2 separate regions of the Homo sapiens genome follow, and region 1 is linked to region 2. The links come from fine-mapping of genetic effects on gene expression. Tissue or cell type: whole blood. Region 2 holds a variant in brackets; the other region holds the start of a gene. All regions are shown on one strand. Distances are from middle to middle. Region 1 holds the start of ITPRIPL2 (ITPRIP like 2). Region 2 overlaps LOC124903657 (a long non-coding RNA gene).

The links.
Region 1: it holds the start of ITPRIPL2, and the variant in region 2 is fine-mapped to the expression of ITPRIPL2 in whole blood (TOPMed, PIP above 0.99).

What each region holds. Positions count from the first base shown.
Region 1 is chr16:19,109,535-19,117,828 of GRCh38, forward strand. ITPRIPL2 (ITPRIP like 2) reads left to right here and starts at 4,430. Exons shown (of 1, transcript NM_001034841.4): 1 at 4,430-8,294. The coding sequence starts at 4,928. The coding sequence ends at 6,535. RefSeq lists silencers at 4,432-4,531, 4,622-4,991.
Region 2 is chr16:19,133,919-19,142,248 of GRCh38, forward strand. LOC124903657 (a long non-coding RNA gene) reads left to right here. Exons shown (of 2, transcript XR_007065011.1): 2 at 1,636-2,466. Among named protein-coding and RNA genes, the nearest start is that of ITPRIPL2, 24 kb to the left of the region's middle. The variant C/A (reference allele first, on the strand shown) is at 4,756.

The DNA.
Region 1 (8,294 bases), 24 kb before region 2:
CCTCCTGTCTTAGCTTCCTGAGTAGCTGGGACTACAGGTGTGCACCAACACACCCAGCTAGTTTTTTTGTTTTGTTTTGTTTTTTTCTAGAGACAGGGTCTCACTGTGTTGCCTAGGCTGGTCTTGAACTCCTGGGCTCAAGCAATCCTCCTGCCTTGGCCTCCCAAAGTGCTGGGATTACAGGCATGAACCGTTGTGCCCAGCAGGTTTTTATATTTTTAAACGGTTGAAAAAAATCAAAAGAAGTGTATTTCATGGCACACGAAAATCTTACAAAATTCAAATTTCAGCATCCATAAATAAATTTGATGGGAACAGCCCTATCCACTCACTGACAGATCATCTCTAGCTGCTGTAGTGGGTTGATTGTGTCTCCCTAAAAGGTAAGTTCAAATCCTAACTCCTGGACATGTGCAGGTGACCTTATTTGGGTCTTTGTAGAGGTCATCAAGTTAAGATGGATTAGGGTGGGCCCTAAATTCAATGAATAGTGTCCTTATATGAAAAAGGAGGGGAAGATTTGGATACAAAGACCTAGAAATATGCACAGGGAAGAAGGCCAAATAAAGACAGAGGTAGCTGGGTCCAGTGGCTTACTTCTGTAATCCCAGCACTTCGGGAGGCCGAGGCGGGTGGATCACCTGTGGTCGTGAGTTCAAGACTGGCCTGACTAACCTGGAGAAACCCCATCTCTACTAAAAATACAACATTAGCTGGGCGTGGTGGCACATGCCTGTAATCCCAGCTACTCGGGAAGCTGAGGCAGGAGAATCGCTTGAACTTGGGAGGCGGAGCTTGCGGTGAGCCGAGATCATGCCATTGCACTCCAGCCTGGGCAACATGAGCAAAACTACGTCTCAAAAAAAAAAAAAAAAAAAAAAAAAAAAAGACAGAGGTAGAGGAATGCAGCTATTAGTAACAAAAGTCATGGCAAAAACCGCAATTATTTTTGCACCAACCTAATGCAAGCCGAAGTTTGCCAAGCAACAGCCCCAAACCCAGCTATTTGGGGCTACAGCAGTGGACCTGAGTAGTTATAGTAGAGATTTTATGACACCCAAGCCTAAAATATTTACTCTGTGGCCCTTTACAAAAAGTGTGAGCCAGGCCAGGCACGGTGGCTCATGCCTGTAATCCCAGCACTTTGGGAAGCCAAGGCAGGAGGATCGCTTGAGGCCAGGAGTTCAAGACCAGCCTGGGCAACATAGTGAGACCCCATGTCTACAAAAAATTTAAAAATTAGCTAGGTGTGGTGGTGCATGCCTGTAATTCCAACTACTTGGAAGGCTGAGGCAGGAGGATCCCTTGAACCCAGAAACTCAAGGCTGCAGTGAGCTGTGATTGTGCTACTGTGCTCCAGGCTAGGCAACAGAGCAAGACCTATTTCTTTAAAAAAAAAAAAAATAGTGTTTGCTAACTCTGACCTAGAGCATTGCCATTATTTGTATAGTTGGAGATAGCATACCACTATATCTGCCAGGGGAAAAATAAACCACTCTGTTGGTAGCACTCCATTTTATAGATCGGGAGATAGAAGCAAAGATAGGTTAAGAGAGTTATCCAAAAGAGGTGGCCAGCTGTCATCTCTGCATGTCAAAACATCTCATCCATCTTTTTCCAGCCGCAGCAACATGACTTTCCTTGGGGGAGAGACACCCCTTCCCACAGTTCCCACAGTTTGAACAGGGCTGACTCCACCTCTTGGTTCCAGGGCTGGGTACCCAACTGTATTAGTCAGCTCAGGCTGCCTCTACAAATACCATAGATTGGGTGGCTCCAACAACAGAAATTTATTTTCTCATAGCTCTGGAGGTTAGAAAGTCCAAAATCAAGGTCTGGTAGCATTCCGCTTCTGGTGAGGGCTTTTCTCCAGGCTTGCAGATGGTCTTTCTTTGGTCCAACCACATGGAGAGAGAGCCGTCTCTCTTTCTTCCTCTTATAAGGTCACCAATCCTATCAGATTAGGACCCTATCTTTCTGACCTCATTTAACCTAAATTACTGCCGAAAAGCCCTATCTCCAAATACAGTCACATTGGCCGTTAAGGTTTCAACATAGATTTGGATTGGAGTTGGTGGGGGCACTACCTGGGCAATGCTAATCAGTGCATTCCCTTGCTTGGTGACTTTAGCATATGACCCAAAACTATCCCAAGTCATGGCATTTACCACAACTTTGAGAAAAGCAAGCCTCTCTGGCCAGGCGCGGTGGCTCACGCCTGTAATCCCAGCACTTTGGGAGGCTGAGGTGGGCAGATCACCTGAGGTCAGGAGTTCAAGACCAGCCTGGACAACATGGTGAAACCCCATCTCTACTAAAAATACAAAAATTAGCCAGGCGTGGTGGCGCATGCCTGTAATCCCAGCTACTCAGGAGGCTGAGGCATGAGAATCACTTGAACCCAGGAGGTGGAGGTTGCAGTGAGCTGAGATCGTGCCACTGCACTCCAGCCTGGGCAACAGAGTGAGACTCTGTCTTTAAAACAAACAAACAACAAACAAACAAACAAACAAAAACAGGAAAGGCTCTCTTTTCTTCTGCACTGAAGACAATGTGAGACTACAGCAGCCAAGGGCATATGGAGGACCTGTGGGGAGGACAGCCCACTTAAAAAGCAGAGAGCTAAGAAGTGAAGGGAGAACAGGTCTGCATAGCATTGAGGCACCTAGATTCAGCTGTACCTGAAATCCCCTCATGGATCTCAGTTAACATGATACAATAATGTGTGTGTGTGTGTGTGTCTATGCGTGCGTGCACTTAAGCCAGTTGGAGCTGTGTTTCTGTCACTTGCAAACCTAAGAATCTTGACTGGTAGATGATGATCTCATAGCTAATATTAGTAGATGGGATCTGAAGGCAGATCTGCTTAGCTCTCAGGGGCCCAATTTAGGATTTACTGGGAACAACCCAGAAGCCATCTTTTGAGTCCTGGTTCCCAGGTGGCAGCTGGGTTCTAACATGTTTTAATATATTCACCCTTGCTCTCTTTAAAGGTCAGTGCCAGCAAAGAAGGTGTAATGAGTGTGAATAAAGAAAGACAATTATTTAAATAGATCAGATTATTTCAGGAAGTGCTCCCTGTTATGAAACAAAACAAGCTTCCTAGGACTGAGGTTCCAATGTAGACCCAGACAAAGGACCCCCAAAATTCCCAGCAGATGAGGAAGAGACCTTCCCTGGGCCCCCTCCTGGGAGTTCCACCCCTTGGTTTCTGCCCAGCTCTACAAAGGCTGTGTAACCTTGTGGGGGAGGGGGGAAGGGGGGCAGCTGAACCTGCCTGAGCTGAACCTGTTTGTGCCCCTTTCCTCCACTGGGAAAATAATTTTATTTTAATTTCATTTCATTTTATTTATTTTATTTTTTCAGAGACAAGAGTCTTGCTCTGTCACTCAGGCTGGAGTGCAATGATGCTATCATAGCTCACTGCAGCCTCGAATTCCTGGCCTCACTCAAGCGATCTTCTCGCCGCCTCGGCTTCCCAAAGTGCTGGGATTACAGGGGTGAACCAGCATGTTCCGATGAAGTCTCAGGCCAAATGTCACCCCTGTCATCCTCTGGTTTCCACAGGGTAGCCAGCACCTTCTCACTCCCTCGGGCACTTTTGTTTATTTTAGAGCGTTTTCTTGCTGTGGAATCCTTCCCCCCACTTTTTTTTTTTTTTTTTTTTTTTTTGAGACGGAGTCTCACTCTGTCACCCAGGCTGGAGTACAGTGGCGCGATCTCGGCTCACGGCAGCCTCCGCCTCCCGGATTCAAGCGATTCTCCTGCCTGAACCTCCCGAACAGCTGGGATTACAGGCGCGTGCCACTACGCCTGGCTAATTTTTGTATTTTTAGTAGAGATGGGGGGCGGGGGGGGGGGTCTCACCATGTTGGCCAGGCTAGTCTCGAACTACTGACCTTAAATGATCCGCCCACTTCGGCCTCTCAAAGTGCTGGGATTACAGGCGTGAGACACTGCGCCCAGCCCCTTCCTTTTTTGATTCCCATTTTTACAAGGCTGTAAGCTTCACGAAGGACAGAAACCTTGTCCATCTTGTCAACTATGATTTCCCCAGCACTGTGGCTCCGACCTGGCACATGGTAGGTGCTCGGTGAATACTGGTTTGAACAGACGACTGCGGCAGACGGCAAGGGCCACTCCTGTGCCAGGGCCTGCCACGCCACCGCAGCTTGTGCGGTGGGGGTGGGGAGGACTGGACAGTCTGGCTGTGCGCCCTTTTCTCCTTTTCAACGTCCCAGTATAACTTCAAGGGAGCGCAACTCCAGAGGCTCCCTGGACGAAGCTACCGCCCCGGAATCAGGGCCTTCCCAATTCTGCCTTCGGGGAGGGAGGATGGGGGTGGGCCGCGGGAGGCCAGTTCCAAGAGCGTCCTGAAGTCCCTCCCGCCGCCCCGCGTCGCTTTAAGGCGGAGGCCCGGGAGGGGGCCGACCCGGCTCGCCAGCTCCACGCTCGGCTCCAGACTCCGGCATTTCCTCCCCGCTAGCTGGCGCGGCCTCGCCTCCCCCTCGGAAGAGGAAACTCCCGGGGTCCGAGTAACAGGGTCAGGCGCGGAGAGGAGCGGCGGGAGAGCCAGGAGGGCCGCCCAGGGTAGGAGGCGAGCCAGGCCGGGCCAGAAGCTGGCCGACGGCGGCGCGCGGGGGCGCCGGGCGGGGAGGGCCGCTGGGCCGGACTCAGCGCGCAGCCGGGGCAGGGCGCGGCCCGGGGCCCGAGAGCGCAGGGCGGGCCGCAGCTGGAAGGAACACTTGAGCTGGGAGAGGAGGCCGAGCTGGAGGGCGGCCTCCCTCGGGCCTGCGTTCGGGAAGCCGCCGCGGAGGAGGAGACGGGGACAGCGGGGCTGCCCGGGCGCTGTGCGCATGCTGGGCTTGGGTCGCCGCCGGGGCTTGCCCCCTGGGCTGCTCGGCCACCGCCGCCCCGGGCGCCCGGCATGTCGGTGCACTACACCCTCAATCTACGCGTCTTCTGGCCCCTGGTGACCGGCCTGTGCACCGCCCTGGTGTGCCTCTACCATGTCCTGCGGGGAAGCGGGGGCGCCCGGGCCGAGCCCGCCGACGGCGTGGATGGCGGCTTCCCGTTGCTTAAGGTGGCCGTCCTGCTCCTCCTCAGCTATGTCCTCCTGCGCTGTCGCCACGCTGTCCGGCAGCGCTTCCTGCCCGGGTCTCCCCGTCTGGAGGGTCACGCCGCCTTCTCCTCGAGACACTTCCGAGAGCCGGGCCTCAGCATCCTGCTGGAGAGTTACTACGAGCATGAGGTGCGCCTGTCTCCGCACGTGTTGGGCCACAGCAAGGCGCACGTGAGCCGGATCGTGGGCGAGCTGGTGCGGGCTGGCCGCGCCCGGGGGTCCCCCGGTCTCATTCCTGGGGGAGCGCTGGCCTTGGCCTTCCGCGGAGACTTCATCCAGGTGGGCAGCGCCTACGAGCAACATAAAATCCGCCGGCCCGACAGCTTCGACGTGCTGGTGCCACTGCGCCTCCCGCCGCTTGTGGCGCTGGAGCCACGGAGCCTGGGCGAGGAGCCAGCGCTGGCCCCGGCCTTCCGCGGCTGCTTCTTGTGCGCCCTCAAGGCACCACCCTCACCATCGGGGGCCTCGGGGGGCCACTGGCTTCGGGACTGCAAACCCTTTGCTGATGCCTTCTGCGTGGATGTGCGCGGGCGGCGTCACCTCTCTGCTACTCTGGTGCTGCGCTGGTTCCAGTCGCATCTGCAGCGCTCCTTGGCCACTGTGCGTTACAGCCTGGAGGGGCGCTGTCGGGTCACCTTGACCCCAGGTGGCCTGGAACAGCCCCCCACCTTACACATCTTGCCCTGCCGCACTGACTACGGCTGCTGCCGCCTTTCTATGGCTGTGCGTCTCATCCCCGCTGTCCATCTGGGAGATGGGGTCTTCCTTGTGGCGCCACCACCGCCACCCTTGCCCAGCGCGCCCCTGTTGGAGCTCCCTGAGGGCCTGCGTGCGGAGGCACTGTGGGGTGTGAACACAGCACGCCAGGAGCAGAAGCTGCTGAGTTGGCTGCAGGAACGGGCAGCTCCAGGTGCCTGCTACCTCAAGTGCCTGCAGTTGCTTAAGGCTCTGCGCGATCTGGGGGCCCGTGGGCTGGACTCAGCGGCCGCCACCCAGTGGGGACGCATCCTATCCTCATATGTGCTCAAGACAGTGCTGCTGGCAGTGCTGCTGCGCAAGGGGGCCCCTGGGCAAGGCTGGGACGAGGAGCACCTGGGAAGGTGTTTGGAGGAGTTGGTGCAGTTCCTTAGGGACTGCCTGCTGCGACGCCATACGCTCTTCCACTGCGTCCTGGGCCCTGGTGGGGCGGCTGCCGAGGTGGGTCCCCTGCCCAAGGCACTGAGGGAAGCCGCCCCAGTTGACCTCCTGGCCGCTTTCGACGGGCACGCCCGGGAACTTGCAGCAGCGCGGTTGCTGTCCACGTGGCAAAGGCTGCCCCAGCTTCTCCGGGCCTACGGGGGTCCCCGCTACCTTGCCAGGTGCCCCCCACCCCGGAGTCAGCGCACCCAGGGCTTCCTTGAAGGTGAACCGTAAACCCTGACAGCACCCCCACCTGACCAAATGCTCCTAAAGCCTTTCCCACTGGGTGGGGGTGGGAATGGCGGTGAAGCCAGTTAAATGCAAGATTGCAGAAGGCATTGGAAAATTTGGTGGCTGCCACAAGCTTTAGTGGCTTAAATATCACCTTCTCGCTTCACAGTCCAGTATAATATGACATCTTCACACCCACTAGAGTGTCCTGGGCAAACCATGGGAAGACATCCAACAGGAGACCCAAGAATTGGTTCAAATATTGTTCTGTGTAGACGGATTCTGTAGAAGGATGTGGCTTTTAGAGAAGTCCAGTAGAAGAAGCAAGAACTAGCTGCAGGGAAAGTTCCTTCTGTCGGTTTTTAGACACAGATCTCTCTGCCCAAATTAAAAAAAAACAAAACAAAACACTAAAGTTTTTGACACAATTACTTGCTAGGTACTGGGTTCCTGATTGTCTTTAAAAAGAAAAATCTGAATCTTTATTTGCAACTGGAATTGAAGTTCTATTTTAGGGGCTAATGTTTAGAGGAACATAATTTCCACTGTTCAAATTAATATTAATGTATTTTTAAAATGGTGCAATCACAGGTGTTTGACAAGATTGTCAACAAGTTAAGTCACATAGATGGAAAGGCAATCGAGAGTTGGTTAGAGAAGCTTCCAGAGAAAATAGCACTTTATATTGATCAATTCACTCATTTTGTGGTAATTGCTAGCACCAAGCATTGCATCTGAAAGGGAAGCCAGTTATATTTATTATTAAATGTACAACCTTGAAAAGCAGCCAGCATGCTTGCCTAACTAACATCGCCGCAGGCCACAAGCTGGGATATGTACCTGTCCGTCAACATCCATTCATTAAACTACCTACTACCAGCCAGAGATGTCTGGAACCAAAGTAGCAACCAAATACATATTCAAGACAACACTGGTGAAGGCATAAAACATGTTGGCTTTGGAGAAAGATGTGTTTTAGGCTTTGCCTGTAAAGGTGTTTCTCCAAGGCTGGCTGCTGGCTGGAGACAGAAAACTTTTTTGTTTTAAGGTTTTTAGCAAACTCCTTCACAAAGAGATTTCTTTCTGAGCTTAATGAGCTAATGAAGAGGAAATGCCTGCTGCTTAGCATGTGGTTTGTGCTGGGTCTCTAACCATTGATGGTTCTTCCTTGTCCAGGCAGTCTTACGTGGTCCAAGAGACCTGTTGATTCAGCACAGGTCTTGCAAAACATTTCACTTATAGTTCAGTATCTTGGGCTCTGTGCTTGAAGATCAGTTACTCCCTGGTCGTGGGCAGAGGAGACAAATTAGGAAAAGAGCAAGGGAGACAGCCCTTGACGGCAGTCTGTCTCTTTTCTCTTTAGGTGTCAGTATCACCAGGTTGGGTGTATTTTGCAGCTGGGAGGAGCCGGTCCTGGAATTCTTCCTTGTTCTCCCAAATTTATAACAGTCCTCAATTGCAGTTTAAGTTCAGCATGGCCCCTCATCTGCTTGCCTGATTGGAAATGCAGCCAGTCCAAGTGTTACAAATTGGGATTTTTTTGTTTTCTAAATAAAAACATGTACTTCCTCAGACTCTTAAAGCTAAAATTTGGAAGACAGAAATGCCTATGTGAATAGAATCATTGTTGAAGTTCTGAGCTCTTTTGAGGGAACTCTATAAGCCTTCTTTCTTTAGGGGATCCACTTGCCTGCTGTGGGAAATCATAGTGAGTGATTTACAGGAATCCTTCTCCTCCAAGCTGCATTGGCTTCTTATATCC
Region 2 (8,330 bases):
TGTCCCCTCCCTGCCATTCGTATATTGAAGTCCTAAGCCCCAGCACCTTAGAATGTAATCATATTTGGAAGTAAGGGTTTTCAATAGGTGATTAAGTTAAAATGCAGCACCATCATAGCTTGCCGCAGTCTCAAACTGCTGGGCTCAAGCAATCCTCCTACCTCAGCCTCAAAAGTGGTTGGGACCACAGGCACACAGCACCATACTCAGCTAATTTTTAAAAATTTTTTGTAGAGATAGTGTCTCACTATGTTGCCCAGGCTGGTCTTGAACAACTAGCCTCAAATGATCTCCCATCTTTGGCCTCCCAAAGGGCTGGGATTACAGGTGTGAGCCACAGTGCCCAGACTCCAACTTTTTATTATTTATTTTTATTTTTTTGAGATGGAGTCTTGTTCTGTTGCCCGGACTGGAGTACAGTGGTGCGATCTCAGCTCACTGCAACCTCCGCCTCCTGGGTTCAAGCAATTCTCTTGCCTCAGCCTCTTGAGTAGCTGGGATTGCAGGTGCCCACCACCATGCCCAGCTAATTTTTATATTTTTAGTGGAGACAGAGTTTCACCATGTTGGCCAAGCTGGTCTCGAACTCCTGACCTCAAATGATCCACCTGCCTCGGCCTCCCAAAGTGCTGGGATTACAGATGTGAGCCACCACGCCCAGTCTCCAACTTCTTTTTGGTGTGTGAAAGAAACTTTTATCTTACTTAGCCCTGTTATTTTGTTATAAGGAGAGGGACCTAATCCTAATTCTAACTGATTTCAGCTGCTTATAAAACTGGGAAAATATCACATTCAAATCCAATTTTCTGTCTTTACTTGAAAAATAAGATCGGTCACACTGTGCCCATGTTCCCATGTGGCAGTGGCGAGGCAGGGGCTCAGGAGGGGCTGTCTGCTCCATCTCCAGTTCACATAGTCCTCATGAATCACAATCTATATGTGATATCCACCTGACTTGCTGGTTTATCTTGTCTGCCTGCCCCTGTAGGCATTTGAGTTTGTGACCCCTGACTCATTTTCTCTGAGCCTCAATTTCCTCACTGACAAAATAGGGCTAATTTTAGAGTCTCCTTGTTAGGCATTTTTTTCTTTTTTTGAGACAGAGTGTCACTCTGTCACCCAGGCTGGAGTGCAGTGGCACAGTCTCGGCTCACTGCAACCCCCACCTCCCAGGCTCAAGTGATCCTCCTACCTCAGCCTCCCGAGTAGCTGGGATTACAGGCACGCACGACCACACCTGGCTAATTTTTGTATTTTTAGTAGAGACGGGGTTTCACCACGTTGGCCAGGCTGGTCTCAAACTCCTGACCTCAAGTGATCTGCCTGCCTGGGCCTCCCAAAGTGCTGGGATTACAGGCATAGACCACCACGCTCGGCCTCCTTGTTAGGCTTTTGCGAAGATGAGATGAGTTGCTAGATGCAAAGTGATATTTACAAGTCTCAGGAGTGAGGGCCACTGCTATCATTGTTACTGTTATTATCATTATCACCATCATTACCAGTATGGAAAGGAATTTGCCTTTTTTGGTGGTTGATCCAAAATCAGAAGGAGAGAAAGCAGGGGAACAGCTCAGATGCTAGCAAGAGTTTCTAGAGTGTGTTCATGCCTGCGGATGACTTTTCTTTTCCGCCCAGGGACAGAGTTTCCGATGTTCATTTATTTAATCCCTCTTGGAAAGTGTTAGCAGCTCGTTGCATCTGTAAAGGATGGAGGTGCCTTTGATCACTTCAATCAACTCACAGCTTCTCCCTTCCCAAAGGCAAGAGGCACCCTTGGCTTCCTCCTGCAAGGGCTCTGGGTACAAGCCTGAGCTTGCTGCCACCGTTAGTCTCCCACTGTGCTGGGGCTGAGGGAGGGGGCTGCCGGGCCCACGGTGGAGTTTGGGGGGATTTCAGGTTAACCCACAGTATATGGGAGGGTGGGTTTCTTTTCCTTTGTGCCGTCATTTTTCCAAGGCGGCAATCAAAGGAGAGCAACCTGTGGTATAATTCAAGGCTGGCAAAGAGACAGACAAAGATGATGGCAGAGGTGCCTCCCCTGCAGCCTGTGGATCCATACTGCACTCACGTCCTCACTCTGAAGGTGGCCTCCTATGAACACCTGCAGCTCAGGCCCGGGAGTTCTTATCTGTTTGTGACAGGACATTCCACCCACATGTAGGACAAGGCAGACATTGCTGGAGTGTTTGAGCCGCAGGGAGCAGCGCTCAACCAACCATGGATGGGACTGGTGGATAATCGCCCAGCTCCCTTCCCTTTCCATGGGACAGCTCTGGGATGCATGCTTTGCCCTGGCCCCAGCAGAGCTGAACCTCAGTTGCCACCTGCCCCCCAGCCCCCTCCGTAGGAACATGCCTGGGGACACACCCTTCCTTGGCTGCCTTCCCGTTCCCATCCCTGTCTCTCACTGTCCCCTCCCTCCTGGTGTTTCCTGAATCACTGTGCAAATAAACTACTCACACCCCAGCTCCTGTTTCAGGGTCCACTTCTTGAGGGGTGTAAGCTAATCAGTCTGTGCAGTTTGGTTCTGGAGGTCACTGAAAAGACTCACTCCTCCCTCTTTCTACCCTGAAGACGGAAAGCTCCCTTTCCCCATCCAGATGTGAACTCTGACTGCAGTGAAGTGAGACCTTGGGTGGGGGGCAGGAGAGGGACCCAAGGGTTGACAAGAGTAAGGAATGGTAGAAGAAAGGGCTTGGGGTGCTCCAGTGTGCCCCGAGAACTGAGGAGGAGGCCCATGCCATACCCACAAACTTTTCATTAGTTAAGTGAAGTATGGATGGAATGATCTTTGGATGCCATTCGAGCCTGCTAGCCAAGTTGTTCCTGTCTGTACCACCCCACCCAGCCAGTGTACAGCAGGGAGTGGAGGTAGCAGTCATACAGTATGGTGGTTAGGAGCTCAAGCTCTGGGTTTAAATAAACCTGGGCTCAGCTGCTGGCTTTCCTACTCATAAGCTGTGTGATCTTTAGCAAGTCACTTAACCTCTCTGAGCCTCAGTTGATATTCCAGCAACACTGCAATGAGCCTTCCTGCACATGTGCCCTTGGGCAACAGGCAGGAGCTTCTCTAGGACATATCCCTGGTGACCAGACGTGCTGAGTCGTAGGGTCTGGACAACTTCTGCATTTATTCATGAGGGCTGGCGCGCTTGGCAGTGATTAAAAACGTGGACTCACATCAGCAAGCGGTGTGTGCTTCTCGGGTGCTCTGATACATCCCTTACAAACACAAACGGAATTACAGTATGCAATCAACTTGCTTTTTTTTTTTTCACCACGTATACGTATTGGAGATCTTTCCATATCTAGCCACCTCAATATGCCTCATTTTAAAAACCATTTTATTGAATCATAATTATAGAAAATTGCATAGCAGGATGAACTTTTACAGTGTGAAAAACACTTGAGTAATCAGTACTGAAATCCAAAACCAGAATGTTACCTCTATTCCAGAACCCCCCTGCTGGTCCCTCCCCTCCCTCAACCACAACGGATTTATAAATATGTACTCTTGGCGTATGTGTGTCTAGCTTCTTTGGCTAAGAACTAGTTTATGAGATTTATGGATGTTGTTGCATGTAGTGACATTTTGGCAATGCCTGGAGACATTTTTGGTTGCCCCGACTTGCAGAGGGAAGTGCTACTGGCATCTTGTGGGTGGAGGCTTCAAAACGTCCTCCACCCCCCACTCAGGACAGCCCCCACTACAAAAATAATCTGGCCCCCAAGTGTCAGTAGTGCCTAGCTTGGGAAATCCTGTTATACACTGTGTGAGGGACTTAGGGGTTTGTTCTAAGAGTACTGGAGAAACCACGGCCTTTGTTCAGCTTTTAAATACTGCAAACTATTTTCCAAAGTGGCTGTGTCCTCTTTCTTTGTGAATACCTGCATTCTTTCCCATCATGTGGGTGTATCATTTTACCAGTTCCCATCCATTAATTTTATATTGTTTCCAGTCTTTTGGCCATTACACCAGTGCCAAAATGAGAATCCTTGTAACAGTCTATAGCAGGCTTGTCCAACCCACAGCCTGTGGGCTGCATGCAGCCCAGGATGGTTTTGAATGTGGCCCAACACAAATTTGTAAACTTTCTTAAAACATTATGAGATATATTTATTTATTTATTTTTAGCTCATCAGCTTTCATTAGTATTTGTGTATTTTATGTGTGGCCCAAGACAATTCTTCTTCCAGTGTGGCCCAGGGAAGCCAAAAGATTGAACACCCATGGTCTACAGTATTTGGAAAGAATATCAGCCAGGCGCAGTGGCTCAGGCCTGTATCCTAGCACTTTGGGAGGCCGAGGCAGGCAGATCACTTGAGGTCAGGAGTTTGAGACCAGCCTGGCCAACATGGTGAACCCCCATCTCTACTAAAAGCACAAAAATTTGCTGGGCATGGTGGCATTTGCCTGTAATCCCAGCTACTTGGGAGGCTGAGGCAGAAGAATCGTTTGAACCCGGGAGGCGGAGGTTGTGGTGAGCCAAGATTGTGCCATGGCACTCTAGCCTGGGCCACAGAGTGAGACTCCATCTCAAAAAAAAAAAAAAAGAAAAAGAATATCATATTTGGATATAAGTGTATGCACGTGTGTGTGCACACACACACACACACACACACACCCCATTTTCTGGAGACCCCAGACAATGGGACACGACTAAATTTGATTTACATGTAAACTTCCTTCATTCCCTGCATGTTTAATATTGAACTTGCTTGCAGAAATAGCTCTCATCATCTTGGCTTCTGCCC[C/A]GGCTTCACATCTCGTGCATGTGGACACACGATCTGGAAAGATAAACAGGAAATCCCTCCCGGCATGGGAAAATGGAGGAGGCCTCTGTTCCTCTGAGAGCTGGGACTCAAAAAAGCTAAGTGTCAGCCTGGTTGGGGCCAAGGGGACTCCCTGCCTGCAAACAGGACTGGGCAGCTCTGGGGAAGATGTTGCAATTTTTTTTTCCTCTAAATGCTTCATGTGAACTAATTCCACTTTGAAATTAATCTCTGGCATCTAGTTGCCTTCTATTTTTTTCTTTAAAACAATATTTTAACCTAAATTTATAGATCTGGACCTGCCTCTGTGCCTTTTATCTTTGTCTAAAATTCAAGTAATGGGTAATACTTTGATTTCAAATGCATTAAACTATAACCACATAATATGTATTGATCATTTTTAACCTCGCCTGTTTTTCAAGCAGCTAGATTTAACAATTTCTCTAAAGTTAACTCTAAATGTTACAGGAACAGTAAAGTCAATAGAACAGAAATTTAAAAATACATATCATATAAAGGAAGGCTAAACCCAGATTCATGCAGTTACTCTTAATAAGAATTAGATTTAGCTCTGAGCTTTCTGGCAAAGCAATAAGGAAAACGCAATGCATCACCCAATATCTTGTTTTCTTGTCAAAGGAAAACTGCACATCTTTAGCTGAGATAATTATTTTCTTGATCTTAAGTTCTGAAATCAGCAGATGTGAACATTTAAAATTTATCCTTCCGGTCTATGTTTTCATCTCTGCTCTTCTTACTTACCCTGGATGGAATATAGGTGCCATGTTGTCACCCCTGTACTGAATTGATAGCTGCCTGGTTGACCGCTTTCTATGTGCCTGGCACTAGGCTGTGTGCTTTACCCTTGGAATATCAACTGTTATTATCCCACGTTACTGCTACAGGAATCGAGGTTCAGAGAGGTTAAGTAACAGCCTCCAACTCATACTTGGCAAGTACTGGAGTTGACAGGTAGGCAGGGCAGGGATTTTTGTCCTCTGAGAAAGAAAATAACTTGTCCAACTTCACACAGCTGGAAAACGCCAAAGCTGGGATTCAAACTAGAGAATTTAGAGATCTTACATGTCTTTAGTACCTACTAAATGCCAGGACACTTTGAGGAATGATGAGGAAGTGTAGGTCAAGGTTAAGAGAGTAGCTGACAGATCTGGGCTCAGTTCTGCCTCTTAATTGACCCTGGGCAATTTCTTAATGCCTCTGAACCTCAGTTTATTCACCTGCAAAATGGGTAGATTATAGCCTAACCTCAGAGGGTGTTATGGGAATTCGGTGAGTTGATGCCTGGGGAGGATTTAGCACAGAGCCTAATGAGGAGGGTGCCCATCAATGTCAGCTCCCATCAATGTCAACATCTTGCTGGTCAATATCAGCAAGAATCCTCGATGAGGCAAAAATCACCAGCTCTGTGCTTCAGGTGGAATCTATTTCTCTTTCTTCTCCTTTCTTCTTTCTTCTCCCCAGCCCTGCACTCCCCCAGCTCTCTGATCATCCTGAAGGGCTGAAGAAAACAACCAGGGAAAAGCTGGAGTTTAATAAATAAGCTCCCTTCGAAATGACCAGAGGGCCCCAGGCATGAGCTGTCTGCAGTGGTTTTCACAGCAAGCTTCACAGCAATACCTTAGGTTTTTATTTATATTACATTTCCCTGTTTACAAAGCCCTCATCTGCCTGCCAGTTACCTCCCTGAACTTCTCCTGCAGTTCTGAGAGGGGGTAGGGATTTCCATTCCCATTGAAAGGAGGCCCAGAGAGGTTAGTGACTTCCCCCAAAGTCACCCAGCAGAGCAGAACTCACATCTTCTGCCTCTAAGTTCAGAGATTTCTTCATAGCATCCTGCTGCAGGACAGCAGTTAATGAAACCGTTTCCGGAAATAATTAAGAGTTAGAGCTGGGAAAAACATATTTTGAATTGGCCAAGAGGGAATTGAAAAACTGCACATGTCAAATCTCTGTTTTTTTCTCCTGATGTGGCTTTTTGCCCCTCATCCCCTGTTCCTTTTGTCCCATGTTTCTCTGACTGCCTTCACTCTCTCACACATAAGCAAAGCAGCAGACTGGTTCATTCATTCATTCATTCATTCATTCACTGTTATGGACTGAATTACATTCCCTAAAATTTCTATGTTGATATTTTAAACCCCAATGTCTCAGAATTGTGACTGTATTTGGAGATAGAACATTTAAGAGGTAATTAATGTAAAATGAGGTCACATGGTTGGGCCCTAATCCAATATGACTGGTGTCCTCATAAGAATAGACTAGGACTCAGACAGTACAGGAGCAAGGGACGACCATGTGAGGACACAGCGGGACGGTGGCCACCTGCAAGCCCCAGAGAGAGACCTCAGGAGAAACCAAACCTGCCGACACCTTGATCTCAGACTTCCAGCCTCCAGAGCTATGAGAAATAAGTGTCTTCTGGGTAAGGCACCCAGGCTGTGATATTTACTTACGGCTGCCAGGACACTTCTTATTCCTTCGGATATACTTTTATACACATCTCACTTCCTGAAGATCTTGGCTGAACTGTCACCCAGCGAGGCTTCCCTGACACCTTCTTTAAAATTGCAATCACACTGCCCACCTTGTTTCATACTCCCAAATTTCCTCATCTGCTTCATTTTTCTCGTAGTACTGATCACTATCTGAATACCCATATATTTGCTTATATATATACATATATATACCCACACACATATATATATACACATATATATATATATATATTTTTTTTTTTTTGGAGACAGAGTTTTGCTCTGTCACCCAGGCTGGAGTGCAGTGGTGCGATCTTGGCTCACCGCAAGCTCTGCCTCCTGGGTTCAAGTGATTCTCCTGCCCCAGCATCCTGAATAGCTGGGACTACAGGCGCCTGCCACCACGCCCAGCTGATTTTTGTATTTTTTAGTAGAGACAGGGTTTTGCCAAGTTGGAGAGCCTGGTCTCAACTCCTGACCTCAGGTGATCCGCCTGCCTCAGCCTCCCAAAGTGCTGGGATTACAGGCGTGAGCCACCACACCCAGCCACTTTTTTGTGTTTTCATTTCCCCTGCCCCAACACTGGTAGATAATTATAATGAGGGCAGGGAGTGTCTGTCTGTTTTGTTCACTGTAATTAACGTACAGTGTTTGCATCTGTAGTGTCTAGAACAAGGTCTTGCTCACAGTAGGTAATTAATTAAGTGTACCTTGAATGAATGAAGTCGTGCACCCACTCATTCAAGCAACAAACAGTAATGGTGCTGTGGCTTAGTGCCAGGCACTACGCCGGGGGCTGGGATATACCTGGAGACTCATACTGGACTGGGAGATGCTAGATACCAGCGCCCACATCATACTCATGCTTGCAACTTCTGTGTCTATTCCAGGCTTGGCCTAGGGATTGCTGTAGTTTTTCCTTGGCCTAGGGACTGCTGTATTTTTTTTTTCTGACAACCCTACACACGGATTTGCTTCACTTATGCAACCTTCAGAGTAGATACCTGGAAAACATTCGCACTGATTTTTAAACAACTTTTAATTTTTTTTGAGACAGAGTCT